Regions from separate parts of the Homo sapiens genome. Here all the other regions are linked to region 2. The links come from fine-mapping of genetic effects on gene expression. A gene starts in region 2. Each other region holds a variant in brackets. All regions are shown on one strand. Distances are from middle to middle.

What was found. PIP is the estimated chance that this variant, and not a neighbour inherited with it, causes the effect.
Region 1: its variant is the best candidate, but not a certain one, in a credible set for the expression of SCARA5 in spleen (GTEx, PIP 0.55).
Region 3: its variant is the best candidate, but not a certain one, in a credible set for the expression of SCARA5 in subcutaneous fat (GTEx, PIP 0.84).

Annotation. Positions count from the first base shown.
Region 1 is chr8:27,942,409-27,952,592 of GRCh38, forward strand. All of the region lies in intron 3 of SCARA5 (scavenger receptor class A member 5), which reads right to left. Among named protein-coding and RNA genes, the nearest start is that of SCARA5, 45 kb to the right of the region's middle. RefSeq lists enhancers at 6,960-7,461, 7,462-7,961. The variant A/G (reference allele first, on the strand shown) is at 5,890.
Region 2 is chr8:27,986,865-27,997,048 of GRCh38, forward strand. It overlaps SCARA5 (scavenger receptor class A member 5), which reads right to left and starts at 5,809. Exons shown (of 9, transcript NM_173833.6): 1 at 5,393-5,809; 2 at 640-766. The coding sequence starts at 751.
Region 3 is chr8:27,959,099-27,969,282 of GRCh38, forward strand. It overlaps SCARA5 (scavenger receptor class A member 5), which reads right to left. Exons shown (of 9, transcript NM_173833.6): 3 at 7,316-7,444. Among named protein-coding and RNA genes, the nearest start is that of SCARA5, 28 kb to the right of the region's middle. The variant T/C (reference allele first, on the strand shown) is at 5,217.

The DNA of each region.
Region 1 (10,184 bases), 44 kb before region 2:
AACCACCACCACCAAGCCTGCCAGCTCTCTCACTGTTAGGAAAGCTGCCCATTGCTTCAACTGGCAGGTTGATCCCAGCCCCTTGACCTTCTCCACCTGCCCTCCTCTGGCCATGCCCGGATCACTGCCATGCCTGGATCCAGAGCTGCCTTCCGATGCCCCGGCCTCTGGGAGAGTTTATCAACTTTTGTATACATCAGTGGTGAACTCTGAGCACCTGCGTCCACTTCCTTCCCCACTTTAACTCTCGGGCTGCACGGTACTGCAGAAGTGTTACGCTGACTTGGCCCTTTCTTGTGCTGCTTGAACATCCTGGAGTTGGGCTGCCTTGAGTGGGTTGGAGGGCTGGAAAAAAAAATGCCCTTTGCTGCTATCTCAAAGCATCTTCATGCTTCTTAATGCTGAAGCCTGCTTTGCCTCTCTCATTCTTGGAAGTAACTATATCCACTTTACCAAGAACATGAAAGCCATTTAGCAAGAACACCATCTCCTCTGCATCATTTAGCATGAATGCCACCTCCTCTGCACCTCACCATAGTTCTGCAAACACACTGCTTCTTCTCAGATGAGAGTAAGAAGCATCCCTCTTCCTGCTCAAGGTGACCTGCACCCTCTGTGTTCCATTCTGTTCCCTGCTGGCTCCTTGATAGGAAGCCAGTGGTGGGAGAGGTGCAGTCCTGTGATGCCTTGAAGGAGCCATCCAACATAGAAGCACCAAGAGGTTGGAAGGGTGGGGTGTGTTAGGAGGTTGCATCCTAACTAATGAGGGTACCCCACAAGATAGCCCTCTAAATATTTGAAGATGGATCCCCTTTCCTTAAGGTTTCCTTTGCCAACATGGCAAAACCCTGTCTCTACTAAAAATACAAAAAGCTTGTGTTTTTACAAACCAGGCATGGTGGTGTGAGCCTGTAGTCCTAGCTATTCCGGAGGCTGAGGTGGGAGGATCACCTGAGCCTGGGAAATGGAGGCTGCAGTGAGCACTGCACTCCAGCCTGGGTGACGGGAGTGAGACTCTGACTAAAAATAATTATAAAGTCCCTTTATTGCCAAAGTCATTCTTTCCTGAATGTGTTTTAGCTTAAATGCATCCAGCGGTATGCTGATAAATGTTTAACAACTGGTTCTCCAAGGGGTTGGGGAGAAGCCTAAGCTGTGGTGCTTGCCAATGTTTGAGGTGTAAATATCCCACTATGACCGACTTCAAGCTACCAACATGACATCATTGACTACGGAGTTAGGAAAAGACGCACGTAATCAGAGCTGACCAGCACACCACTGTCTGCAGCCACCTTACATTGCAGCGGTCAGAGAGGAAAACAGCAATGAAGAGGGTTAGAAAAGCCACATTTGATGACCACCTTTGTAATAACTGACTCGGGCAAGAATTGTAAGTGGATGCTAAAATCATGGAGTGAAGGATTGCTGGCAATCAGTGTATTTACACAGCCTCAGAGTGTCTCCCCACAGATCACTTCTTAATCAGAGGGAATAAAAGATAGCTTTACAGTAGATTATTCTGACCAAATTTACCTTAACCAAATTTACCATTACCAGTACAGGAACAAATTGACACAATCCACCTCCTCAAATGACTTAGAAAGTGTTACTGCCAAGAAGGTTTAACCTACGTCAATCATGGGAAAACAATTAAACAAACCCAAGTTAAAGGACAGGATAGCAAGCAACTGGCCTGCATTCTTTAAAATGTCCATGTCATGAAATACAGTGAAAGGCAAGGAACCCATCTAGAAAAGACTATGGAGCCATGAAAACCACATGTATATTCTGGATTGGATCCTGCATCAGGAGTTTTAAAAATGGTTATAAAGGACATTCTTGGAGCAACGGAAGAAAATTAAATATGGATATACTGTATTTATAATCAGCATTAGATTTCTTGAATTCAGTAATTGTATAGTGGTGATATAAGACAATGTCCTTGTTCTTGTAAATACACACTAACATATTTAGGGGTGAAGTTTGCAACTCACTGTCAAATGGTTCCACAAAAATTAAAAATGGTAATAACAAACGTGGGGCGAGAAGAGAGAGCAGGTACACGCAAATGGCATAAAATGTTAACAATATTAAAATGAAGGGTATATAGCACTCTTTATAGCTTCCAACTTCTCTGTAGGTTTAACATTTTTTAAAAAATAAAAAATTAAGACCAGGCATGGTGGCTCATGCCTGTAATCCTAGCACTTTGGGAGGCCAAGGTGGATGGATCACCTGAGGTCAGGAGTTTGAGACCAGCCTGGCCAACATGGTGAAACTCCATTTTGTAAAAATAGAAAAAAAAAAAAAAAGTAGCTGGGCATGGTGGCAGTTGCCTGCAATCCCAGATACTTGGGAGGCTGAGGTGGGAGAATCATTTGAACCTGGGAGGCAGAGGTTGCAGTGAGCCGAGATCACGCCACTGCACTCGTCTGGGCGACAGAGCGAGAGCCTGTCTCAAAAAAAAATAATTGAGGTCAGGCGCTGTGACTCATGCTTGTAATCCCAGTACTCTGGGAAACTGAGGCAGGTGGATGACTTGAACCCAGGAGCTCAAGACCAGCCTGGGCAACATGGCAAAACCATCTCTACTAAAAATACAAAAAATTAGCCAGGTGTGGTGGTATAGGCCTGTAGTGCCAGCTACTCAGGAGGCTGAGGTAGGAGGATCATCTGAGTTCAGGAAGAAGAGGCTGCAGTGAGCTGTGATTGTGCCCACTGCACTCCAGCCTGGGTGATGGGAATGAGACTGTAAAAAAATAATAATAAATTGAAAAAAAAAAAAGGAAACACTGAGGAGTTGTCTAACCTGCATGGAGCCAAATAATACTGGTGCCTCCCTTATTCTCTATGAACGTAACTTTGATCACGATAGCTTTTGGTGGCAGGCATGTCACACACTGACTCATAGACTGCATCCTGCCAAACTCAAACCCTCAACCTTGCTTTAAAAACTGATGTCAAGCCGTGGCTTCCCCATTTGTGGGGCACTACTTCATGTGTGTCCATATTAATTGACCAGGTCTAAGCTATCTCTCTGGGTTTCAGCCTTATTTTGGGTTCTGATTCCGCATTCCTTTAAATTGAGTGCTGATCTCTGTGAACCACAAAGACAACAAACATGTCATCCGGGATTTAACTACATAAAGATTTATGAAGCATACAGGTTGTGCAAAGCAGCAGGTTGGGTACAAAGAAATCAACAACAAGTAAATAAGATGTGAGTGTCAATCATAGCCTTCTGGAAGATAAGAACCAGGTCTTATACTTCCTTGGTCCCCCTATAGCACCCCATGGTAGTGAGTATGTATTAGACACTTTATAAATGCCTGATTTGACCTCACATAGTAACCAGGCAAAAGGCTTAAACAGCCAGTCTCCTTAAGAGATGACACAATGAATAATCAAATGTATGGAAAGCTTGATGAGATTATTAGCTATCAAAGAAATGCAAATTTTAAAAAAGGAAATCTCTAAAAGTAATGGAACAGTGCTACATCATGCTGGCAAGACCGTGGTGAACGCTAGTGTGTTTAAACATTGCTGATGACTGTGCAAATATTTTTGGAAGGCAATTTGGCAAAAAGTATCAATAGCCATAAAAATGTTCACATCCTTTGCAAAATAGTCTCTCTCCTGGGAATTTAAGAAGTAACCCAAAAGAAGGGAAATGCTACAGCAGTGAGAAATTTATCACTCTCTTATTTGTAGCAGTGAAAACCTAGAGAAGTCGTGGATGAGCAATTAGGAACAATTAAATCATGGTACATTAACCAGATGAACTTTAATGAAGCTCTAAAAATGACAACCATGAAGTCTGCCATGTAACAATGTGGGACATGCATACGCTATCACAGGAAGCAAGCACATACACACAAAGGATTAAAAGAAAACCAGGATTCGTGAAAACAACTGACTTTAGAGGAGTGGAATTATGAGTGCAGCCTTCTTCTCTGAAGGGATTGGCTCCAGGATCCCCCACAGAAAATCCTCAGATGCTCAGGTCCCTTCATTGGACCTCCTGTATTTGCTGGTTTCACATTCTCAAATTCAATCAACCACGGATAGAGAGAGGACTCAAAGGAAACCAGCCCTGTTAGCACCTTGATCTTGGACTTGCAGCCTTCCTGAGAGAAAGTAACTACATCTATTGTTTAAGCCATGCAGGCTGCGGTATTTTGTTATGGCAGCCTCAGCAAACTAATACAGACTGTAAGAGACAACCCAGCCAGCCAGGGCTAATTTGGCTCTATCTAAGGGTAGGACCAGGAGCCCCAGGCACAGTGGATTATGGGTCATTGTAGGCACCACCAAGTGTGCCCAGGGCCAGAGAGAATCTGACGAGGCCTCCTTTGCCCTCTTCATCCCAGTGAGTGGAATGCCCCCCTTTCTGATTTAGGAAGGGGTGGGCCTTGGGCATCTGCATTTCAAATAACAACCCACCCCTCCCTGATTTCTGTTTTAGCAAACTCGTTGAACTGAGATCCTGCAGAATGACTGAATTCATGATCCCCTTAGCTTTTGTTTTTTTTCACTGTTCTCCTTCAGTTTCTTCTGTCTCTCCTAGCGAACAGAGATCCCAGGTGGTCAGAATATCCTGTTGGGCTTTTTTTTTTTTTTTGAGAGGGAGTCTCGCTCTGTCACCCAGGCTGGAGTGCAGTAGTGTGGCTTTGGATCACTGCAACCTCTGCCTCCCAAGTTCAAGTGATTCTCCTACTTCAGTCTCCCGAGGAGCTGGGACTATAGGTATGCACTACCACGTCCGGCTACCTTTTGTATTTTTAGTAGAGACAGGGTTTCGCCGTGTTGGCCAGGCTGGTCTCGAACTCCTGACCTCAGGTGATCCACCTGCCTTGGGCTCCCAAAGTGCTGGGATTACAGGCATGAGCGACTGCACCCAGCCTCTGTTGGACTTCCAAGGGCAAATTGGCTTAAAAATCCAAAGGGCAAGAGATTCTGCTTCTGGGTACAAGCCCAAAAGAATTGAAAGCAAGGGCTTGAACAGATACCTGAACACCCATGTTCATAGCAGTATTATTCACAGCAGCCGAAAGATGGGAGCAACCCAAATGTCCACTGACAGATGGATGGATAAGCAGAATGTGGTCTAGCCAAGCAATGAAATAGTATTTAGCCTTACAAAGGAAGGAAATTCTGACCCCTGCTTCAACCTGGATGAACTTTGAGAACATTACGCTAAGTGAAATAAACCAGTCATAAAGGCTCACGCCTGTAATCCCAGCACTTTGGGAGGCCCAAGTCCGAGACCAGCCTGAACATGGCGAAACCGTGTCTCTACTAAAAAAAAAAAAAAAAAAAAGTCAGGCATGGTGGCACATGCCTGTGATCCCAGCTACTTGGGAGACTGAGGCAGGAGAATTGCTTGAACCCGGGAGGCAGAGGTTGCAGTGAGCTGAGATCACGCCACTGTACTCCAGTCTAGGTGACAGAGTGAAAAGATAAAATAAAAACATGATAGACAAACACTGTCTGATTCCACTGATATGAGGTCCCCAAGAGAAGACAAATCCATAGAGACAGAAAGTAGAATGGGGGTTGCCAGGGGCTGGGGGAATGAGGAGTTCAGGTCTAGTGGATGCAGTTTCAGCTTGGAGATATGAAGAGTTCTGCTAGTGGGTGGTGGCGATGGTTGCACGGCAATGTAAACATGCTTAATGTCACTGACCCTTACACTTAAAAATGGTTAAAATGATAAATATTATGTTCTGTGTATTTCACCAGAATAAAGAAAATTCTAAAAGGTAACTGAGGAGGGGAGCTGGGTGGGGTCGGGGGTGGAGGACAGATTTGGCCTCGGGCTGGGTTGCAGGCCTCCTCCCCAGGGTGAGGGCGGTGACTTAGGGGAGGGTCTGGCTGCTCCAGGCAAGC[A/G]ATTACTCAGACTCAGCCTTGGCCACACCCAAGGCCACAAGATATATGGGCCCTCTGGGAGGGAGGCAGGGAGGCCCCAGCTCAGCTTTCACAACTGAAGTCTCAGGACCTGGCTGGGAGCCACGAGCTGGAGCCTTCCTTCCCCTTCCCCTATCTTCTCTTCCATCAAATACAAAGGCGGCAGGGCCTGGGGCTGGGCCGTTCCACCGGCAGGTCAGGACCGCCAGGCCAGCCTTTCTGTCCACTGGGCCGAAGGGTGTGGCCCGGTTCCATGTGTTTGGGATTTGAGCAGCTAGGGGCCTGGAGAGCTCTTCAAACTGGCCAGTCCCACGGGGCTTGGTGGGTAACATTCCCCAGTCCCTCTCCAAGGAAGAAAAACAAACAGCTGAGCGCAGGAAGCCTAGCTGTGGGACTCGCTCCAAGACTGAAAGGGGAGGAAAAAACGATTCCAGCCCCAAACGCCTAGTTAAATTGAAAGCAATGGACTACAGACGGGAATGGGCACTTTTCCATAAGCCCCAGCCTTATCAAGGAAATTTAAAAATCCATCCTTGAGAGTTCATGCGTTTTGCTTTGTAATTTGCAATGTGGTGTTATGGCCGTTTGTGTATATCGATGTGCATAGTTTATATTGCAAAAGCAGATATTATAAAAACCCACATGGCCAGGCTGAATGAACGAAGCACAAGCGGGTGGAGCCCACAATTGGCTTGGTGCTAGTATTCTTTGTGGGAAGCCACCCTCCTTGTCCCTCACTTCGGGGTGCCTCAGTTTCCCTATCTACTTCTTGCTCAGAGGCTGGTGGTGTGGTGGACAGAACAGTGAGCTTCAGGGGACCTGAGGCCCAGGCCTGTCTTGATCACACATGAGCAGAGCCCACGTGGCTCAGAGCTTGGCTTTCCAGCTAATCTGTATTTCCTCAGTAGAAGCCAGGTGGCAATCACAGGGGAACAGCAGGGATTAGTGAGACGGAGCTCTTGACCAGGAAACCAGAGTCAGCCCAGCTTTGACCTTAACCACCAGTGCCCTTTAAATTTAATCAGCAACTATTTATTTTCTCCTATGAGAACTATCAACCTCGTTGGACCTCAGTCTTCTCATCTGTGAATGGGGATAATAGTGTCTCCCTCAGAGCAGTGGGTGAGGCTCAAGTAACCTATTGGATGGGAAATATGATTATTACTGTAACCGTAAGGGTGGAGTTGGGTGAGGTTGGCAGCTACCATGTGGGAGCATGGGGGTCTTTGGGACACTATGGATTGAGTAGCTCAGGAATCAGGCCACTGTTGCCGCATAACTCAGCCTGGAAGCAGGGCAGGCAGATCGGAGAGCAGCAGCAGTGCCTGACTCACCTCCTGTCCTCCTTCCACCCCAACCGCATCCCATCAAGAGGGCTTTTCCCCGTGGAAACTCACGCCCACGGTACCCGGAGCTGGATGGGAAAAGCCCCTGCCTGGCAGTGTCTCAGGTCTGAGTCCTCCCCTACAGCCTGCCCGGGTGCAGAAGGGGCCAGGGACATGGGTCTGGCTCCTGAAGAGGCCCTGCAGGTTGCAGTGGGGTGGGACCTGAGGGGAGCCACTGCCCATCCACAGAAAGAAGGGCTGTTGCAGAAAGTTCTGGAGCTGGACTAAGCTGGCCTTGCTGATGGTGCTGCTAAGCATGAACAAGCAGGCTGGCCTTGGGCAGGTCCACCAGGGCCTGAGCAGAGACCTAGGGAGGCTCAGTAATGTGGCCAGCCCACCGTGGCTCCTTGTGGTGAGAAAGGGGCTGAGAGCCTGGAAACGCTGGGGGAATGCCACCCACTGGCCACCTGGGAGTGAGTCCTTGCAGCCAGGGCAGGTGCAGAGCCACCAAGGAGGGGAAGGGGTCTAGCACATCCTCCTGCCAACTGCATGCCAGCCCCAGGGGCTGAGGCAGGGACACCCACACGCTCTTTGCCATTAAACCACCTATGTCTGCACTTTGACGCGAGCCAGACCTGGGGGTTGCCAGGAATATGCACGACTACCTGGAACCTGGTCCAGATCCCTGCCTTGTAAGGAGACCCCCACCCCACACACACCCCCAATCCCATCCTCGAGCAGACCCTTTCCACACAGGCCTCATGCCCGTGCTTGGGGGGCATCCCAGCCTGCACGGCCAACTCTAATCCCCACCTAATGCCGGCAAGCAACCCTCCCTTTGTCACCCTCTGGCCAGCACCGTGGTTTCCCTCTCCCAGAACAGCCCAAAGGACCTGGAAGAAAGCTGAGGCTTTGGGGAAGGGAATTCCAGTCCCAGGTCCCCAGAGCATGACCCAGAAGGAGGGACATGTGAGCTCCAGGTGCCATGTTCTCTTAGCCCTCAGGATGCCTCACCTTGTGGGTTGGGAAGCGGCCAGAGGGACAGAGTGGGGCCCTCTAACACATGGGGACTAGGGCAGGTGCCTTGGTCTCAGGAACCTGAGACACTTAGCAATGCCTCGGAATCCAGTGCCAGCACTTTCCTTGAGCGTATATTAACAGACAGCACCTCTGTACCCATTCAACCGATCGGAACGAGCTCTGTGACAAAACTCCTATTTCAGCACTCAGCTTTATGGGAAAAAAAAAAAAAGGTCAGTGTGGACTAAGCCATTTATTCCACAGACCTCACCAATAACTGCTGTTATAGTACCATACACAGGGACTCACCCCTTCTCAAGAGGAATGGTGGGTGCTTAATACATCATCTCATCTAAGGGTCTCCACGTTACTCAGAGGATGGCCTTAGGATCCCCACTTTACAGATAAGAAAACTGGTGCTCAAAGAGGTTTAGAAATTTGCCCAAACTCATGGAATTTTTAAAAAGAGCAGAATGGGTTTGAAATGCAAGTCCATGTAATTCTAAAATTTAGGCTAGTGAATGATACAGAGGGATTCATATATGTGCCCCCAGAAAGGTCACAGTTTAGTGTGGAGTCAGACACAGAAAACCGGTATCAATGCCTGAGCAGGACAAGAGCTGTGCTGAGTGGAGCAGGAGGGCAGTGTGGGAGCCGGAGCTGTGGTCACTCCCAAGGTCCAAAAACTGATCGGCGCCAATGGAGCTCTGAAGGTCCAGCCCAGAAATTCTCAACCCAGAGCCCCCAACAGAACCTTTAAAGAGCCCCAAAGTAGACATGGGTTTTCTTGGTGACCAACGAATGACTGGTGACCATTGATGTGTCAAGTGGTCAGGCCCCCGAGGCTCACAGGGGCAAGGCCCCCTGCCCAAGGTCACACAGCTTGTGGCAGTGCCAGGGTCAGGAGACCCGAGGCTGGACCTCCGGTGCAGAGGCCCGTCCCGTCCTGCACGGTGCCATCAGCGACTGCCCATGGCCACACGGTAAGGCAGAAGGCAAGTGTGCTCCACGCCAGGGAATGTGCCTCCTGTACCCAGAGGAGGAAGGAAAATCCTTCCTCTTCCTCATGCAGGGGAGGTTCCCTGAGACAAGGCTGGAGAAGAGGAGGTCCGGAATCCCTTCTTCCTTTCAACATTTTTCACGGGGAATGACTTCGAGCGAACTCGAACACACCAGAGAATTCCAGTCCCAGGTCCTCAGAGCATGACCCAGAAGGAGGGACATGTGAGCTCCAGGTGACATGCTCTCTTAGCCCTGAGTGCACAGGGTGTTGCTTAGAGCAGGTCACTTTTGCAGGATAGTGTCCCCTGCAAACTCATGTCCACCCAGAACCTATTTGGAAATAAACTCTTGGTAGGTGTAATCAAACTAAGATGAGGTTGTATTGGGTTGGGGACCAATATGATTAGTGTCCTTAGAAGAAGAGGGAGATCTGGACACAGAAACAGACATGTAGGGAAGAAGGTTGGGTGTCGATGGGAGCGCAGATTTTAGCAATGAGCCTACAAGCCAAGAAACAAAGGGGTGGCTGGCACCCCCAGAAGCTGGAAGAGGTAAAGAAGGATCCTTTCCCACAGCCTCTAGAGGGAGTGCAGCCTTTGCTCGTGCCTTTTTTGGACTTCCATCCTCCGAGCTGTGAGAAAATAAATTGTTATTTAAAGCCACCCGGTTTGAGGTACTTTGAGCAGTCCTAGGAGATGGACACAGCTGGGTGGTTGTTTTCTGACCATCTGGCAGTTGGAGATCAAGGGTTGGGGTGGAGATCCCAGTCTTTATGGACCAAGTCCTTGCACAGGGAGTGGTCAGGGGGCTTTCTGCCTTCGTTGCCATCACCCAGGGGACACAGGCTGCAGACCCTGCAGAGCTACTTCCCTTAGCCCTGTACTCTTCACTCCTCACAGCCAGCAAGACCTTCCTGTGGGCCTGAGAGTG
Region 2 (10,184 bases):
TGCATGCAGCAAGAACTTATCAGTCATCTACTGGGTGCACAGGAGCCAAGCTGGTGGAAAAGCGCTCTGGGCTCCTCCAAAGGAAGCTGCATCACTTGGATCTCCAGGGTTTTAGCAAATAAGCAGCCCCTGAGATGCAAGGCCTTCTGGGTCACTGGCCTGGGGACCCCTTTCTGTGGCAAGACCAGGGCCTTGCACCCAGGGGCAGGATGAGCACCTTGGAGAGCTCTTTGCCCCTCACGAGTGCTTCAGGAAGTGGGTGGGAGGCCCCTCTCCTCACCTGAGAGGGTCTGCACTGACTGGCTCAGAGGCCCTTGCCTGACCCGAGTCTCACTCTCTCAGGAGCAGAAGCATGGCCCTCGGAGTCAGGAGGCTCCATGCTGGACCACCATAAGACTGATGGACTGTGAAATCTGTCCATCTGTAAAATGAGTACTCATCTTGCTGACAGGTTTGTGGAAGTGAATGAATGAGAAAACCCATGGAGAAGACCTTTTAAAGCATAAAGTTCAATATATGCACTATTACATGAGGAGGTCACAAGCACTTAAAGGCAATGCCAAGGTTGGGTGGTGGTAGGGCTCCTTCCCCACCCCCAGGCCAGATCTTGTGCCCCAAGTCTGAGCCAGCTGCACTCACCATCCTCACACAGGTTCAGCTTGGACAGGCTCCTGCCATCAAAGGAATCCTCACAGATGGAGCTGGTGTCACAGTCGCTGACGGTGTGTAGGTACATAGCTTTGTTCTCCATCACACCCTGCAACAGCTGCAGAGAAGGCAAGAGGGGAGGAGAGGGAGGACGAAGGCCGGGAGAGAGACAGAGAATCAACTGTAGGTGGAAACAGAAGCAAATGGATAGAACAAGGTGCCCACCCCTGACCCTAAGCCTGAACACCGGGACCCTCTGCTCATCACCAGGACCCAGGTGCCATCCTCCAGGTCCTTGGGGCCGTGATGCCCCCACTCCCAGCTTCCTCAGGGCTTCAGAAGACCAAGGCCCTTGGGCCTTTCTGATGGTGGGATGTGTCCATTCCTTTCAACAACTCTCAGTGGGGCTGGAATCCTGAGCTGGGGTCACTGTGGGTTACACTGGGTGGGGCCAGGAGGAGGGAACCCTGCTGACTCAAAAGGTAACCTGAGAGCAGGCTCTGAGCCCTCAGAAGCCCGGGGCATGCCAGAGAGACTTGAGCTTCTGTTCTGTGTTGGAAATGAAGGAAGGAAACTAGATATGAAGGGGCATTCAGAGGGGGTACAGAGTCCACTTGCAAACAAAGCTGAGCAGACCAGGACTGCTCCCAAATCCAACGGGGCTGGCATGTTGGAAGGAGCTTGGCTCAGTAGGACCACAGCAGGGATTCATCTACTGTGGTGGGGCCCGAGGAGCAGGGAGCCTCTGAAGGGACACCCAGGCACTAAGCATCTGGACAGCTTTAGGCCAGGGAGGGCTTCTGTCTGCATGGCCCCCAGAGGCTGACTCATTGGGTCTCTGGGTCTACGCCATGATGGTCCAGGAGCATATACATTGACTTAGGAGAATCCTATGCTCTTTGAAAGGAAACAGCCTGTTGACGCAACAATGTGTACAACACGATCCCATTTTGTAAGACATGCACGCGTAAGGTGCGTGTGGATGTAAGACGCTATGATGGCTCCGGGTGAGAAATGTATTACAGGACTCTGGCTGGAAGGGATTGTGGGGATTTAATATTCCTTTTTGCTTTCAGATTTTCTGGGTTTTCTATGATGCATTTACATTCCTTATGTAATGAGAAGAATCTGTTTTTTAAGCCAAATTACAAAGTATATACATCAATTTCTTGATATTGTTTTTGTCACATAAATGCTCAGTGACTTTACAAATTATTCTCTACTTTCATCAAGGTTCCAGCCATGAGTTTATCTTGACCTTTGCTTCTGATTCTCTTTAACTATCTGGACATTTAACCAAAGAACAGCATCCTTTAGAAGATAAAAGCCCCATGAGGATGGGTCCCAGGCCCAGTATGGAGCAAACTCAACCCTTCAACCCAGAGGAGGCTGGGAGGAGAGGATGCAGGGCTGGCAGGTGGCAGTGGGGGGACAATGCCTGTTGATTGAGAGATCAGTCAATCAGTTTCTCTTCAGAGGGAGGGTGGGCAAGGAGGCGTGGCAACTTTCATAAATAGACATAATCAGGGAAGGCGGCTGGCGGGGTTGCTCTGCAGCAGAGCAAAACAAGAATTCCGTATTTTCTTTCTTCTTTTTTTTTTTCTGTTTCTTTCTTTCTTTTTTTTTTTTTTTTTTTTTTTTGAGACAGGGTCTCACTCTGTTGCCCAGGCTGGATGGCAGTGGTGCAGTCTTGGCTCACTGCAACCTCCGCCTCCCGGGCTCAAGTGATCCTCCCAACTCATCCTCCTGAGTAGCTGGGATTACAGGCACAAGCCACCATGTCCAGCTAATTTTTTGCAGAGATGGGGTTTCACCATGTTGGCCAGGCTGGTCTGGAACTCCTGGAGTCAAGCGCTCCACTGGCCTCAGCCTCCCAAAGTGCTGAGATTACAGGTGTGAGCCACTGCACCCAGCTGAAGCCCCTATTTTCATGACTTGAGCTTGGCCTCCACAGACCTCTGACATTTGGGCTGAGAAGAGACCAGAACTGACCAGTCACTGTATACATGTCCTTCTAATGACCCAGGAGGGCTGGACGCCTCTGCTGTTAGCCCTTCTGTACATCCCCCATAACGGGCACACACACGCATGTGCACACACACAGCCTTGGGGCTCCCAGTATCTGCGGGCCTCTCCTCCAGCCTATGGGAGGGATGGAACAGGGGGTGGTCCTCGGCTCTGCCAGGATCTCTCCTCCCTGCCCCAGACACCACCCACTCTGGCTTCCCTGTGCTGCAGTGGTGTCCAGTTCACTGGGCTCCCAATTCCGGCCCTCCACCCAATGCCTCCACCCAGGCAGGGCCTCTAGGTGGGGCCGCGGGCAGCTCCAGCACTGCTAAGTTGCAAGGGACCCTCCCTCATTTCATGAGCACTGTGTGCGGCAGCCCTCCCTCTGGCTTCACTCCTTGCGGGGCTGTGAAGCAGGAGGCCAATGTCTCTTTTGCCTGCAATAACCCTCCCTCTGCCAAAGGCAATAGCCTCTGCTTCCCAGAGGCCACACAGAGCCAGACAGGGCGCTGCCCCTGGGGAGTGGAGGTGTGAGGCCCCACTGCCATTTCCACCTTCCTCCTCTTCTGGTCAGCTCCTGGGACGGGGCTGGAATGCACGGCTTGTTAGCCAGAATGTGTGTGAAGGGCAGCTGTCTCCTTCCTCCTCCCCACCCCTCAGCTGGTCCAGCAGGAGCCCAGGGGATCTGCTGGGGAGAGGGACTGGGGCCGAGCGGGGCCAGATGTGAGTGCACAGGGCTTGGAAAAGCTCAGACAACTCTACTCATGTTTGTTACTTGGAATTGAAACCTACGCATGTTCTGTCTGCCCAAGGTTTCTTGGGGGCTGTTTTTCTTTCTTGGGGGAGGAAGCAGGCATTGGGACCCTCAGATCATGGATCTTACTGTCTTTGGACCAAGTCTGTGCTCTAGAAGATGAAACTGATGGCAAGTGCTCCTCCCAGGAGCACTGTGTTGGGGGTAGGCTGATGGCATTTGCATTCCGTCCCTCCCATTTTAAACATAAGCCATCCCAGACCAAAGAGGCAAAGGAAGGAATGGATATCAGAGCGGGAAGAGGCCCCGGGCACAGTTTTCCTACACAGGGCACTGGCTCAGCTGCAGGGTTGCTTTGTTTGGGAATTGCATGTCAGCCCCTTTGGTGACCACTTTCTGGGCCCCAGATCAGGCAGAGAAGAGAATCCCACCTCAGACTGCCAGCCAGTGTACTCCAGCAGGTGGGGATCCTGGGACTGAGGCAGGGCTCTGAGAGCTTGAAGCACATGGGCGAGATGTGGAAGCCACAGTGACCTGTGGATGAAGCCCAAGGAGACTGGACCTCAACTTGCAACTCAAAGAGGGAGGTCTTGCTCTAACAGGGAGGTGTCACCCTCTCCACTAACCTCTTGGCAATCATGATTTACTTCCAGACAATTTCACCCAAGGCACTTAGAAGGGCAGGTTCAGAGCCAGGGATCTGCTTCTAGATTCTGCATTTTAGAGCTGGAAAAGCCCTCAGCCATCTGTGCCCTGCAGCCCTGTGCCCTGGGGCCATCTGCGCCCTGCAGGCCTGGCTCTCTGCAGGAATGCAGGGAACACAGAAGCCAAGGGCTCCCATCCTAGCTCCTCTGCGTATTGGTTTCTTGGGGGAACTTGGCTCAATTACCTGACCTCATTCAGCCTCAGGTACATGACCTCTAAGATGGGAAGGTGGGTAGCTGCTGGTCACCCAGGATCACTGTGAGCCTCCCGTGAGATAATGCATGTGGCATGACTTTATGAACAAGGTCACTCAGGGGAGCTGGTGGCAGTCTGATGAGAAAAAGCATCCCCCAGCATCTTCTGACTCTGCCTGGCAGCCAGGTAAGGGGGTGTCCAGGTTCCCAAGGCCTCCCTCCTACCTAGCCAGTCTCAGAAACAAAGCTGTTTGAAGTTCCCTTTGTAAAAGGCAATCGCGAATGCACTCTAGGGCTGATATCAGGACCCTGGCTCTTCAATCCTTCTCTGGAGATCAGAAGGACTCCATTAATTCCTCCTCTGAGTGGGTAGCACGAGCCTCATTTGCTGCTACCAAGTCAGTTTCTCTGGGTACCCGCATCTAACTCTGCAGGGTTTATGGCTTTTCTTTGGATTACCTCACTTTAAACTCATCAAAACCAAGGAAAAAAATCACATGAGTGTGGCCCTTCTCCAAAGAGAGAATCACTAAGGAGGTTTTAAATGTTTTCCTCCTCTAACTGTACTTAGTTAAGCTAAATCATAACCCAAAGCTGGACAGAGACAGATATTTTAGAAATAACCTCTCCCCACATATATCCCACCACTGGCACATGCACACGCACAGACATGCACACACACACACATGCACACACACACACATGCACACACACACATGCACACACACACATGCACACACACGAAGCCATGGAGAGGAGCTGTCACCTGAGCCATCTGCACCCTGAGTAGGCTCTTGAGCTGTGACATGAGTCAGGTGGAGTAGCCACCAAGGCAATAGCTTCCCTCTGGCACCCCAAATGCAGGCTCACATTCTCTCCAGCCCAGGCAGTTGGATGAGGGCCCGGCAGATATCTGCGGGCCCAGCAGGCGGGGACCTTCCCACCTGGAGAAGGCACCTCCAGGCTCTAGGTCTGAAGTTTCCCAAACTCTGTACTCCTCTCCATCCAGTTCACTCCAGTCTCCTCCAGCTGTCTTTGAGACAGCATGCCCAGGAGATAGGACAAAATTAGTACCAAGACTCACCTGAGTGCCCCTGGCTGAGGCTGTAGAGCCTTGTCCCCTCAGATCTCAGCATTTGCCATGGTGGCCAGAGAGCTGGCTGCCACCACGCTGAGAGCCAGGCCGCCCCTCGGACCGCGTCCCCACAGCCAGCCAAATCCAGATGGAGTCATAGAAAGGGGCTGCAGGGGCGCCCAGGGACGAGTCTCAGAGCAGGACCACAGGGGCCACTTCTGCAGGAGGACCAGGTCAAGATGCAACCTGTGGCAGAGTGGGGGTCTGGGCCTGGGGGACCCAGAATGGGGGGTGTGCGCCTGGGACTCCCTGTCCTTGGTGCCTGGTCCTGGGTAGCGATCAGGAGATGTTCTGAGGAGGCACCGGCAGCTCCTCTAGGTACTGCCTGAGATGCGAACTGCAGCTGCTCTCGCCGCCAGTCCGTATAAAATAAAGTTCTTGGAGCAGTTGCGGAGGCTTCTGCAATGGGGTCTGGAATACGGCCCCCCTCCTGCGGCCAATCGTGGCATTACAGCCCCGTGTGGGAACGCCCGCTGGGCCCAGAGCAGCGCGGTCGGCCTTGGCCTTGGGACTCCAACACCCCAGTCTAAAGGTCCTGCTCAAAATACTTTTTGGAAGACTTCTGGGGGAGTGGCAGCTAGACCTGGCTTATGAGCCACGCAAGAAAACCAGTCTTGTAAATTTATTTATAGCACAGAATTGGCATGGCTCAATTCATTCACCAAGCTTGGCACAGAGTTACTTCATGTATTTTCCTGGAGTCACATTCATCCTCAGTGGACACGGATTGGCCACACTGGGGGTAGTCAGGAAAATGCCCCAGGGGGTTCCACGGAACTCAGCAGCAGAATCAGCGTTTCTGGCTCATTAACGCTGCACAGGGGCTGGGGGGTGCAGGATGAAGACTAGCTGGCTGTCCATAGCAATTCAGTATGGGAGGGGGACCCAGGCACGAATAATCCTAAACCTGAGCATGATTGCTTACGTTTGAAAAAGGACATCTAGGCCGGGTGCAGTGACTCACACCTGTGGTCCCAGCACTTTGGGAGGCTGAGGTGGGAGGATTGCTTGAGCCCACCCACAAGTTCAAGACCAGCCTGGGCAACATAGTGAGACCCCATCTCTAAAAAAAAAAAAAATCTCTTTAAAGGCAATCTAACCATATGTGAAGGGAGCTGCTAAATTCAGATTGAGGTGGTAGTATCAGGGGCATCAGAGAAATCACCATAATTGTCCAAGCCAGGGTGGCAGAGTTAGGCTATGCAGATGGCTTCCAGAGGACAGCACCCAGAGGTAACATTCATGAATGCATTCCTGTTTGTTGGTGAAAAGTTCAGCCTCAAGACTCCAGGGTCAGGCTTCGTACATGAAAAGTGTTTGCCAAGACTCAGCTGTGTCACTGCAGCTGCCCGCCCACAGCTGAGTCAGAAACGCCGTCCTCATTCTCAGTGACTGCCCTGCCTGACTGCCTAGGAAGCAGCTCCAACATCAAACTCCATTTTACAGAAAGAACAAATGATAATTGTATCATTATGGTAATAATCCCAGGGAGCGGAGGAGGAGAAGGAAAAGAAGACAACACTTTATAGCATATACCATGTGTTTCTTATATATTAGCTCATTGAACCTATTCAACAACCCCCTGAGGCAGGTGCTGCTATTATGCTCATTTACAGAGACAGAGAGGAAGTGACTTGTCCAGGGTCTTGTAGCCAGTAAGTGGCAGAGCTAGTATTCAACCCTAGGCAATGTGATCCTAGGGTCTATGCTCTTAACCCCTCCCCTGTACCATTGCCTCTCAAGGGGAAACAAATGTTTTTGTCCCCCATCAATTCACCAACATTCCTAGGAATGTAATCTTAAAAACAGCCAGAAATGTGCTCAAAATATGATGTCCAACCAGCCTGGGCAACATGACAAAACCCTGTCTCTACAAAAAAAAAAAAATACAAACAATAGCTGGGCGTGGTGATGCACACCTGTAGTCCCAGGTGCTTGGGAGGCTGAGATGGGAGGATCAACTGAGCCCAGGAGTTTGAGGCTGCAGTGAGCTGTGATCGCACCACTGCACCCCAGACTGGGTAACAGAACAAGATCCTGTCTTAAAAAAAAAAGTGATGTCCAAAGACCTTCCCTAAAGAGATGTGTATGTTAGCAAGAAATGTGGTAGTTAGTGTCCCCCTAAATTCAAGCATTGGAAATGTAATCTTTATTGCAACAGTGTTGGGAGGTGGGGCCTTTGTGGGGGTATTTGAGTCATGAATGTATTTGGGATGCCGTAGAAAGGGCTTGCAGGAGTGGGCTGGCTTGATCCTCTGCCTTTCTGCCATGTGAGGACTCCACGCTCATCCTCGCTTGTCCTCCCACCTCCCGCCCTGTTCGAAGCACTGAGTCCTATTGCGTGATAGGCACATACCACACACAATGTGTATATCGGTCTCCTGCTGAAGGGGGTTTGGGATGTTTCCAATCTTTGTCTATTATGAATAAAGCTGCCGGAACAGGCAAAGGGAGATTTGACAGTGAAGTATAGGAATGACCTGGAGGGCTGGTTTTCTCATGGGTGAGAGTCCTCCCGGCAGCTCTTAGCTCAGATACCTCCTTGCCACTAAAATCAGAATTGTCCCCAAAATGATTTGCTTCCATTCAATCACGGATGGCATTTGTAGTAGGCATTTCCCCCCCAGAAGCTGAATGAAAATGTGATTGCCTTGATAGAGGAGGGTTCAATAGACTTCTGAAGTAGTTTCATCTATGAAATCTCAGTATTTGAAATGGAGGGACCAAGCTTTTTCAGTTTGTTTTTTCTAGAGGTAGGATGTCACTTTATCACCCAGGTCGGAGTACAGTGGCACAATCATAGCTCACTGCAGCCTCGACCTCCCAGGCTCAAGTGATCCTCCCACCTCAACCTCCTGAGTAGCTGGGGCTACAAGCACATGCCACCACACCCAGCTAATTTTTTAAAATCCTTTGTAGAGATGAGGTCTCGCTATCTTGCCCAGGCTGGTCTCAAACTTCTGACCTCGAGCAATCCTCCCGCCTCCACCAGCCAAAGTGCTGGGATTACAGGTGTGAGCCACCATGTCCAGACTCCATTTTTGACTCTGATAAATGGTGCTGCTGTGAACATTCTTGTGTGTGTCTTCTGGGGAACATATGAATGCCATTCTCTTGGGCATATACCTGGGCATGGAATCGCCAGGGCATAGGATGGCCCTGTGTTCAGCTTTGGTAGACACTGCCAAAGAGTTTCCTATGGTGGTTGTACTAGTTTATATCCAGCAGGGGATGAAACTACACTTATTCCTTGTCCTTGTCAGTGTCAGTGATGTTTATTCCATTTTCCCTGCTCTGGTGCATTGTAGAGGTGCCATATTGTGGTTTTAATTTGCATTTTCCTGATGACTCATGAAGTTGAGCACCTTTAATTATGTCATTAAGTCTGATTGTTGACTTGAACTCTGGGCCCGTTACACCAGCAGGTCCTGCCCTATGGCTTGGGGTTGGCTGTTCCATCTGCCTGGAGTGGTTCCACCAGATGTTTGCACAACTAACTTCTTTGCCTCATTCCCATCTTTTCTCAAATGTCACTTTGTTCATGCTGCTGAGCCTAATGATTCCTACCCACAGGCCAGGCATGGTGGCTCACGCCTACAATCCCAGCACTTTGGGAGGCCAAAGCGGGAGGATCACTTAAGGTCAGGAGTTTGAGACCAGCCTGGTCAACATGGTGAAAACCTGTCTCTACCGAAAATACAAAAATTAGCTGGGTGCAGTAGCAGGCACCTGTAGTCCCAGCTACTCGGGAGGCCGAGGTGGGAGGATCACTTGAACCAGGCAGGCCGAAGCTGCAGTGAGCCAGGATTGCACCACTGCACTCCAGCCTGGGTGATAAAGCGAGACCTGATCTCAAATAAATAAATAAATAAAATTGCTACACACCCCTTGCCACTCTTAGTCCCCCTCACCCTGCTTGGTTTTGCTTACTGTCTGCTAGAACAGCAGCTCCAGGAAGGCAGCTCACTTGAGTGCTTCAAAATGCCTAGCAGGGTGCCTGGCGCACAGTACACGCTCCAGAAATATTGGTTGTGTGACAATCTGAGGAAACAGCATCAGGCACAGGGAACAGAAGGCTCAGAGGCCTCAGTATGGAAACACACTGGACATGCCGGAGGGGCAGAGAAAGGCCCAGTGGCCAGAGCACAGAGGATGCAGTGGCCAGAGAGAGGAGGTCAGGGGAGAGGGAAGCCTGGGTCTCACCCTGAGCACAGAGTGGAGCTGAGGCCACGCCCTTCTTTTTTGTCTCTATCTTCTCCCAGGGAACACATCGATCCTGTACTGTTCATATTTTTGCTTCTTTTTTTTTTTTTTTTTACATATTTCTTCATTATAGTTTGCTACTTCTTGTTTAAACTTTTTAAAAAAATTAATTGTGGTAAAACACACATTGCATAAAATTTGCCATCCTAACCCTTATTTATTTGTTTGTTTGTTTGTTTATTTATTTATTTATTTATTTATTTATTGAGACAGAGTCTTACTCTGTGGCCCAGGCTGGAGTGCAGTGGCGTGATCTCAGCTCACTGCAACCTCCACCTCCTGGGCTTAAGCAATTCTCCTGCCTCAGCCTCCCAAGTAGCTGGGATTACAGGGGTGAACCACCACGCCCAGCTAATTTTTGCATTTTTAGTAGAGACGGGGGGTTCGCCATGTTGGCCAGGCTGGTCTCAAACTCAAATGATCCACCCGCCTCAGCTTCCTAAAGTGCTGCGATCACAGGTATGAGTCACCATGCTCA
Region 3 (10,184 bases), 28 kb before region 2:
GGCATGCACCTGTAATCCCAGCTACTCAGGAGGCGGAGGCAGGAGAATCGCTTGAACCCGGGAGGCAGAGGTTGCAATGAGCTGAGATTGCACCACTGCACTCTAGCCTGGGTAACAGAGTGAGACTCTGTCTCAAAAAGAAAAAGAAAAAATAGTAAGTCTCATGAGAATTTAAACTAATATCAACATCCATGGTCACAGCCTGGCACACTCCCCCCTGGCTAGGCCACCCCAGGAGTGGTGTCTAATTCTGTTGACTACTCACACCTGGAGCCTGTTGGGAGGATGGCTATTCTGTTGAGACATTCAATTTGATCCTTCCATTAATTACCTGCTATATGTGGCACATGATGGTAGGCAGTGGGAGGACAGCTGTGAACAAGGTGCGGTGCCCTATCATGAAAGAGCTCTCCCGGACTAGGAGGAGAGCCAGCACAGAAACCAATCATTGCAATACAGCATGGTGAGTGTGAAGACCGGGGCCCAAAGACACAAAGGTGGAGGAACTGGGTTCACTTTCCTTGGTGTTACCAACTCACTGATGAGCAATCGTGAGGATGAGGAGAATGCCTTGTTATGATATGATTTGTTCCGGCAAGAAGAACTAGAAACAGTGTATGGGAAAGTCAAGGAGGACAAGGAAGGGGTTTCTGTGACTCGCAGTTGTTTTTTGGGAAAAGCACAACACCATGTCTGTCTGGGAAGTCGGGAGGGAGGTTGTAGGAGATGCCCACTGAAGCTAAGCATCTCCGTGCCATGGGTGGAGCCATTGCTGGCTCCATCGCTCCCTCCCCTAAAGAGCTACAATCCTGGAAATGCTGTTCTGTTCCTGTTTCTTGGCTTACTGAGCCCTGCGCTGTCACGGTACCTCAAGGACCTCTCCAACAATGTCTCCAGGCTTCCCTGTGTGTTTATTGGAAACATGTGCATATGGACACGTACTGCACTGAGCCTAGTTCTGTTTATAGACAAAGTTACTGGGTGTTCAGGCTAAACAAGTAGGTCTGTAATCCTTTGCTATTCTGAAAGCAAACTGTCTCTGATTGTGGGAATAATAATATCAAATATTTCTGGAGCACTTTTTTTTTTTTTTTTAAAGACAGGATCTCGCTCTGTCACTGAGGCTGGAGCGCAATGATGCAATCATGGCTCACTACGACCTTGAACTCCTGGGCTCGAGTGATCCTCCTACATCAGCCTCCTGAGTAGCTGGGACTACAGGTACATATCACTATACCTGGCTCATTTTTTAATTATTCGTAGAGATGAGGTCTCACTATGTTGCCCAAACTCATCTCAAACTTTTAGGCTCAAGCAATCCTCCTGCCTCGGCCTCCCAAGAGCTGCAATTACAGGCATGAGCCACTGTCCCAGCCTACTGAGTACTTACGTGCCAGGCAGTGAAAGAGTTTTAATTTTTCATGTATTATTTAATTCAGTCCTCACAACAGCCCCATGGGGTAGGCACCACGATCAACCCATTGTACAGATGAAAAAACCAAGTCCCTTGGAGGTTAAATTATTTGCCTCAAAATGATAGAGCCATTCCATAGTACAGCCTCGATTTGAACCCAGAAGTCTGGCCTCAAAGTCCATATCCTGAAGAGAATATAGCTACTCCCAGAATGCTCGAAAGACACAGAGAACAATAGAAGTATCATGTAGCCCATTGTTTTTCAGACTACAGCTTATATCCTGTTCATGAATTATGAAATAAATGAGTTGTGATCATGTTAAAAAAACATAAATAGAATAGAGTAGAAAGGCATTACAAATTTAAGTATTATCTCAGCTATGCTTATGTGTGTGTACTGGTTGTGTAGGTCATGGTAAAAAATGTTTGAGACCACCAATCTTGCCCAATTTGCTCACTTTACAAATGGGTGAACTCCCATTCAGACAGCAAAGTGATGTTCCCAAGGTTACAGAGCCTTCACAGATAACCTGGGGCTAAACCCTAGGTTATGCTATCAAGGTTAATTGACTGCAAAGAAAACGAAGAAAAAGTAAGAGTGACGATGCTAATAATAGTGGTAATACCAATGCCAGCAATAACAATAGCTACTACTCCAAATCTCATGTTGAAGTCAGATCCCCAGTGTTGGAGGTGAGGCCTAGTGGGAGGTCTTTGGACCATGGGGGTGGATACCCTCATGAATGTCTTGGCATCCCCCTCATGGTAATGAGTGAGTTCTTGCTCCATTAGTTCACATGAGAACCAGTTGTTTAAAGACGGTGGACCTCCTCCTTTCTGTTTCTTGCCACATGACGTGCCTACTCCCCATTGTCTTCTGCCATGACTGGAAGCTTCCTGAGGCCTTACCAGAGACCAAGGAGATGCTAGTGCCATGCTTGTACAGCCTACGAAACCATGAGCCAAATAAACCTGTTTTCTTTATAAGTTATCCCATGTTAGGCATTCCTTTTTAGCAATGCAAAACAGACTAATATAGGGAGTACGCTGATTTCCCCCGTTTTCAGAGAAGGGAGTTCTTGGCCAAGTGCCTCGGCCAATGTCACATAGCTGGTGATAGAGAAGCCAGGGTTCCAACTCAGACAGGCTGGCTCCAAAGTCCCTACTTGTAACCAGCGTGAAGTCTACACGGTCCTGCCTGTCTCAATATTCTTCTTAAATGCTGTAATGTCAATGCAGTATATAACATGGTAGATGTGTTAATATAATCACACACCTGCCACTTCTACTAGCTAAATGTCCCTGGGTAGCAATTCCATATTCATCTCAATTAGGTACTTGGTTAAAACTGAAATAATCATCTTTTTTTTCTACAAATATTTTCTAGATTCCCTTGTCTCTGTCATTCATTCACATATTAAAAACATCATGCATTTGAAGAATCAAGTAGAATAGGCAGAAATTTTTGTAAAGATAAAACTGTACATAATACCCTTCCTTGTTCCGTAAAGAATTAAGGCAATTCACAAGGATACATTAACTACACTAAGATTAAAGTAGATGAGATGCAGGTAAAGAAGATCAAGTAGAGAGACCCCGAATGAAGCCAGGAAGGAGACTAACACAAAAATGCTTTCCTGAAGTCTCTATACTTGCTGCAGGTGGACCACAATTCTGTCCCCAGGTTTTTGTTTTAATGACCTTCAAATTCACATATCCTCATACAAGGGATGACAGCTGACTCTTAAGTTTGTGTTAATTACCTCCTTGAAAGTAATTTTAAAGACTTTCAGATTCACAGTCTCCATAAGGTGAAAACAAATTCCTCGAGGAACACATAACTCCTTCTATGACTGAGACAGAAAATAATTGGTGCATGGGTCCCCTGAGTACAGCATTGTGTAATGCAACAAATAACATCCTCAACATCATTCTTACAATAAGCACAAGGGGTGAAATTTCACAGGGTTGTTTCTGACAGTGTCCCAATAAAGGTTGATGGCATTATGCTCCTATTCCCAAGATGCGTGATAGAATCAGGAAGCTACAGTGTAGATGGACATGGGCTCTGAGCATATTGTTCTTTCCTGCAAAGTCCAGGGACAGACCTGCTTGAAACAAGGTGATCCAAAAAAGGGATACTCAGTTCAAAGCCAGGTGGACAACTCTCCGCAGGCCAAGCCTTTCCCCAACCATTCCAGCCCTCAGAGATTGGGCTCTCCTTTGTATAATTTGGCAACAGCAGAAACTACGTCACATTGCCCGACAATGGGTGTATGTATTCATGATTTTAAACCCTCCTGTGCAGGGCCTACATCTCATGACGTTTTATTCCTAGGGCTTGTCCCTTTGCCCTGCACTCACCGAACACTCATGAACAAATTCAGCACTTGTTGAGGATGATGATGACAACGACCGAATGGTGCTGTTAGAAAAGAACTAATTTAAGGTGCAGGAGGAGCCCATATTTCCCTAGGGACTCTCCCTGTAGACCAGTGGTCTTGCTACATTGCTGCGATGCTGCAGCCTCACCCCACATTCGAATCCCAGATCTTTTCACTTCCCCTTTCTGCTGTTTCATTTCCACAGTGAGAATTCAGACTTATCTACAGAGCTGTCTCAGGAAAGGGGAAGAAGAGATGGTTCCTGATGACCACACCCAGTCACCACAGTGACTGCCTAGAAGAGCCATAGGTAAGACTGAGCTCCCTCTGACCCCTTAATTCTATTGCAAAGGACATCTTGCCTGAAGTGCTGGATTGAGGACCCCCTGGCCACACGACCAGGCAATCTCAATTCTTTAGTTCATGAACTTAAACCTGATGGTCTCTACTGTTCAAAAATGAATCGGGAACAGAATGAAAACATAATAGGGAACGGTCAGCCAAGGTAATAATCAAAATGTGTTGAAGAGATAGAAAAGCTTAGAGGTATTGGAGGTAGGAGGAGGCTCTTGCCGTCTCCTTGGGAGATGATGACAGGCTATGAGCTAAGGGAAGAGAACCCAGTGCCAGCATGGGATTATTGGAGTAAAGCTCCCAGGAGGACACTGGTCAGGTTGGATGATGGGCAGAATCCAACTGATAGAATAATTTGGGTGGTGGCCGGATTAACCTTCAAACAGGTAAACTTGGATAATGCATAAACGTGAGGTACATGTTTGCCTTTTACTTTCAGTATTTGGGCAAGAAGATGAATTGAGAAAAGTCCTATGTGGGGCTTATAAGACTCATATTTTGGTGTAGTTTGATTACAGATTTTTCATACTGGGAAACAGTAAGAGTAAGCATTTGCACACCGAGATGTTGCTAATCCCATATTCAGATATGGCACTGGGTTGCAGTGGACAATTTTGTCATCCAGTTGTAGGAGCTATGAGATTTGCATTGACAAGGAGGTTTTAAGAATGGTTTAAATGGATCTCCTGTGCAAGGTGACCTCTCTGGGCACAGGCAGTGAGTTCTACCCAAGAAGGGGAAGCCCTCTCCCATGGCAGGACACCCAACAGAAGGCCAGGCAAGCTCTTCTTCACACTGGACTGTGGATCTCCCCTGACCCCTGATCTTGGTATCTCTGAGAAGGAGCATCGCTGAGGTCTTCAATCAGGCAATCTTAAGAAACCTCTCTAAGATCAGACAGAGCCTCCTTAAAGAACCTCAGACTTGTCCACCATCTTGCCAAGTCCCTTTCCTATGCTGCCCTCACCAAACCTCCCCCAGAGGCCAGCATGATTCTCCAGACAAGAATCTGGGGAGGTAAGAGCGGCCACACACCCAGGGCCAAGAGATCAGGTACGACATTG[T/C]TGCACCAGCTCCGTCCCAATCCACCCCAAATTTTTGTTCAACACAGGCAATGTGGTACCCAGAAACTTCAGGTTCTAAGATAATTATAATGATCAGAAAAATGCTGGAACAATTAAGGAGGTATGGCAACATTTCTATTAGATTGGGAAACCATGTTCCACCCTCCTTTCTGAAGCTTCCAGGACATTATTATAAACCTCATTCAATCTCCAAGCCAGGAGAAAGCCTTTTTTTCATCATACTGGACGGCACTACTTGTTAGCAAACTGTCCTTTATTTTGAATGGAAATCTGTCTCCTAATAACATCCACCTGTTGGTCCTAGCTCTGCCTTCTGGGGTCACATAGAGTATGTCTACCCTTTCCACATGGCAGCCATCCAGACACCAGAAGAGAACCGTCACTCCACTGCAAGTCTTCTCTTCCCCAAGAGACGATGCCCTTCCAGGACCTCCAGAGGCCTGCCCCAAACCCCCCACCAGCCTGGTCCCTCTCCTCCAGACCCCCATCTGTCACCTAAAAGTTCCTGTTCTGCAGAGCTTTTCTGTATCTGTCACCTAAAAGTCCCTGTTCTGGTTTCCTGTTGGGCTGGAATGCTTTCTGAACATTCCAGAAATTTGTTATGGTCCTCGCAGCCAAACCCACAAAACTCAGATCCCAAGCTCTCACCAAGCAGCCCGAGAACATGTTCAAATCCTCCTCTGGCCCACTCGGCCTGCGAGGGACCCTGCTGGCCCCTGTCCTCTGGTCCCAGGGATGAATAATGAGGTTCTCTCGTTGTTGCTGTTGGCTGCCCCTCAGGTTGCTCATTGATGGGACAGACTCCACCCCAATGTCTTTGCCCTGAGTGTGGAAACCTGAAGGCTCAGGCAGCATTGAACACCCCATTACATCACCCAACTGACTAGTCCCGCTTGACGGAAAGTGAATCAAGACCGGGGAGGTCCTGGCCATTTGCCTCAAAATTTCCAGCAAAAGGTCATCTATCTGTAAGGGCTGGACCTCCAGATTCCTGCCCTGGGCTTCACCCGAGGGCCCCTCCCTCAGTGCTCCAAGTCAGCTCGGCCTGGCCAGCAGCCTCGCTCCCACCAACTCCACCTGCTTCATGCAGCAGCCGCACCTCCCTCTATGTGCCTGCTCTGTCACCATCGCATTGGGCTACACCCCATCACAGTGCCCGCTGCATTCTGCCTTGAGGCAGGGCTCTATCTGCATGACCCCCTCAGTTCCTAGGCTGGGAGCTCCTTGAGAGAAGCCCCTGGGTCCTATTTAGCTGTGCCCCCAATCTTAGCATGGAGCCTGCTGCAAGGCAGGTACTCATGTGAGACATGTTGGGTGGAAATAAACTGATCTCTCAGCCTTACTTGCGTCCAGTCCTACCTACCTCCACTGAGAAAGGTGGGAACTGAGCAGCCCTTCCTTTCAAAGGGAGTCAGGAGAAGACCACTACAGCCATCTGCTTCACCATCTGTCTTCATAGGGACTACCTATAGATGATGAGCTGGGCTGCTCACAGCTTGGGGCCAACAGGCTCCTGTTCCATCCCTTCTTGAGTCCATGAGCTCTCCTTCTCCATGGCTGGAGAACATGCTAGCCCTAGCCCATCGCCTGCCCATCTCAAAAGATAGAAATTGGTAAGGAGAGCCTGGCTGAATTGGGGCAAACCCATTCTACCTACAGTAACTGCAAAGGGCAGCAGGTTTACCAGGAAGCAAAGTGCCTCACAACTATTTTCATGGCACCCCAGGACCAGAAGCTTAGACAACGCCCAGCCTTCTCAGAGCAAACCATACCCCAGAGGCCCAGGGAGGCCCAGTGTAATGCACAATGCCCCACAATGATGCAGGAAAAGTCAGAAGCCACTCCAAGCAGCTAGGTCTCTACTGCTGGTCTCTTTGATTCCACAAGCTCACATAGCCCCTGCCAGCTACTCCCACGCAAAACAAGCAATACTACTGAAGAGCTTCTTCCTTCTTCCTCTATGGTTTCCATGGTGACAAGGGCAGTGTTTGGGCTCATGACAGTGGGAATGAAGAGTGGAAGCTCCAGGTCTTCCTTCCTCATCCCAAAAGACCAGGACAAAAATGGCCTGCTCTTACCTGCTAAGATGAAGATGCCCACAAGAATCAGGAAGACCAGCAGGTAGAGCCCCAGGACAGCATGCTTCAGGGCCGACAGGGACCCCAGCTGGGTACAGCAGATGCTTGCCCGCCGTTTGTGACATGGACCTGGACAATAAGGGTAAGAGGAGGAAGGAAAGAAGACACTTAAAAACCCCATAAGCTCTTTTCTTTTTTGGTCTCATCTCTCCCTGATGCATGCAGATGTTCATGTTGAACTTCTCACATCCCTTTTGCATGTCTAGAATGCAGCCACTTGATGGGGAGCTTTCCAGGACCATCACATTCAGCCTCTAGCTCTCCTCCCACTCTCTGTGTTCATGATCAAGCCAGATCACATGTCCACAGCTCACATGCTCACAAAAACCAACTCTTCTTGAGCTAGTCCAAGCAGCAGAAAGACCTTGAAATAGTCTTGGATATGTGGCTTTAAAAAGTGTCATTGTCCCATGGGATCCAGGGAACATAAAGAGAAATTAAAACAGGAGTTGCAAACTCAAACTTCTACAGTGGCTGGGAAGGTATGGGAATGAGAGAAATGGGCCCAGTGGGACTGTGGGGAGGCCAACGGCACGTGCCTGCTCTGGCAGAGGCTACTATGCAGGGATGAGTGGTGGGTGTGGCCAGATCCAGAATTTTCTACATCTATTTTTAAGGGTTGGCAACTAATTCATCAAACACAAAACACTGGGGAGTGTAAACAAAACACATCTGTAAGCCAGTTCTGACCAGCTTGCAACCTTGCATTTAGATTTGCTAGAAAACATGGTAACCTCATCCTGTGACACTCCTCAGCTTCTGCTCAAAATGGAACAGGGAAATATCCTTGCTGTAGTGGCCTTTTGGGCCATGTAATTCAACCCCTTTGTTGTACAGATAAAGAATGTCAAATGTCAGTTAGCAGCAAATCCGGCCCCAGGACCCAGGTTGATCTTTTAGCTGAACTGGTCCTTCAAGGTGGCCTTCTCAGATGGCCCATGAAGAGGCTTACTGATCTCCAGCTGCTCTGTTGACTGGAAGTGGAAAGAAGGGATCCTCTCCCTGATGTTAGCAGGGCATGTAGGAATCACTGGGTGGGGGCGGCGGGGGGACGGCATTTTTTTAAAAAATGCTTATCCCTTTAATGCTTGTTCCTTACCCCCTGTGGGTAAGACCCCTCTCCAGAAGGACTGTCCCCACTTCAAGAGTGTCACTAAGGCCAGGCACGGTGGCTCACACCTGTAATCCCAGCACTGTGGGAGGCCAAGGTGGGTGGATCACTTGAGGTCAGGAATTCGACACCAGCCTGGCCAATATGGTGAAACCCTGTCTCTACTAAAAATACAAAAATTAGCTGGGCGTGGTGTCGCGTGCTTGTAATCCCAGCTACTTGGGAGGCTGAGGCAGGACAATCACTTGAACCCAGGAAGCAGAGGTTGCAGTGAGCTGAGATCACGCCACTGCACTCCAGCCTGGGTGTCACAGTAAGACTGTCAAAGGAAAGGAAAGGAAAAAGGAAAGGAGAGGAGAGGAGTGTCACTAACTGGAGTGGGCAGAAAAAGGTTGTCAAGAGAGGCTAAAATAATTGATATTTAGAAAACATCCTGAAGGATAGTACCATGTTTGCAATTCCTTCATAGGTTCCCATTTGCAAGGATACCTCAAAGGTTACATATCGCCTCCCAGGTATCATTACTACCTCCTTGGCCTCAGGAGGTTTTATGACCACAAGGAAAATGGTGGTGACTATTGGTACCTTACGATCCACACTGCCCTGGTCCCCCAGAGGTATTGTTATATAAGGAACATTTTCTCACTCATTGACTTCATTTTATTACAAATACTGCTGTTAAACCAGCTAAACAGAGCTATTACATAATATTTCCATAAGACATTGGGTGCAGTGTCGAGCAAGTTGTCAATGACTATTCTCACTCATCCTTACATTAGCAAGTTTTGAAGAGTTGAGCTGATTTTCCGCTAAGACAAAATAGAGCACATCTTTCTAACTCACCCTAAACCTTTTCTGGGATTTTCCATCCTTTACCATACACTAGGCTCTACAAAGGGTTTTGCTCCTAAATATGTAGGCTCCTGGTAGCATTTCTTTTATTTTTTTCCTTCTGGTGAGAGCCACTAGCTGTCTGGTTGCAACTTACCAGAGAAAACTCTGTTCCTCTCAAGAGTCAGAGTAGGAGGTATAGCATTGAATAATATTATACAATTACTGGTTTCATTCTCATGGTGGTAGTTTCAGCTCTCCTGCTCTGAGCCCTGCTGTCTCCTTAGCCTCATGACAGAATAGGAGGAGGAAAATCACACAGCCGTGAACACAGTTAACTTCAAGTTTGCCTTTGTCATCTTCATATGTGTTGCTAGTTCACTGTAGGAGTGGGTCAATGTGCAATGATGTCTATTTTTTCCCCATTAAAAAGAATATTTCCCTTGCCCTCTACCTGAGGCTTCTATTTAATAGCAAGCACCTACTTGTGACAGGTGCCTTAGTCAACCAACACGCAGAACACAGACCTTCCTTTGAGAGAGTTTAGTTCTTTGAGCAAGACTTGGTTACTTTGTGCATTAAACCAAGTATATTTTAAATAGAACATAATGAGGGTTTCAAATAGAGGTTTCCCACAAATGGTTAGACAAGCAGAACATGAATGATCTGGCAAGGCCCTTAGAGAATGATTGCAAGGGAAAGAAGACAATTTAAGACAACGACAAGTCACAAAGGCTGCCCAAAACACATTTATGGACTTTTTTTTTCCAAGTGGCAGAAGCATGTTAGCTGGGTAAACCTTTCAAATTATTTAAACTTAGCAGAAGATTACAAACACTCCAAAATGATCCTATCAGCAAAGCCAGG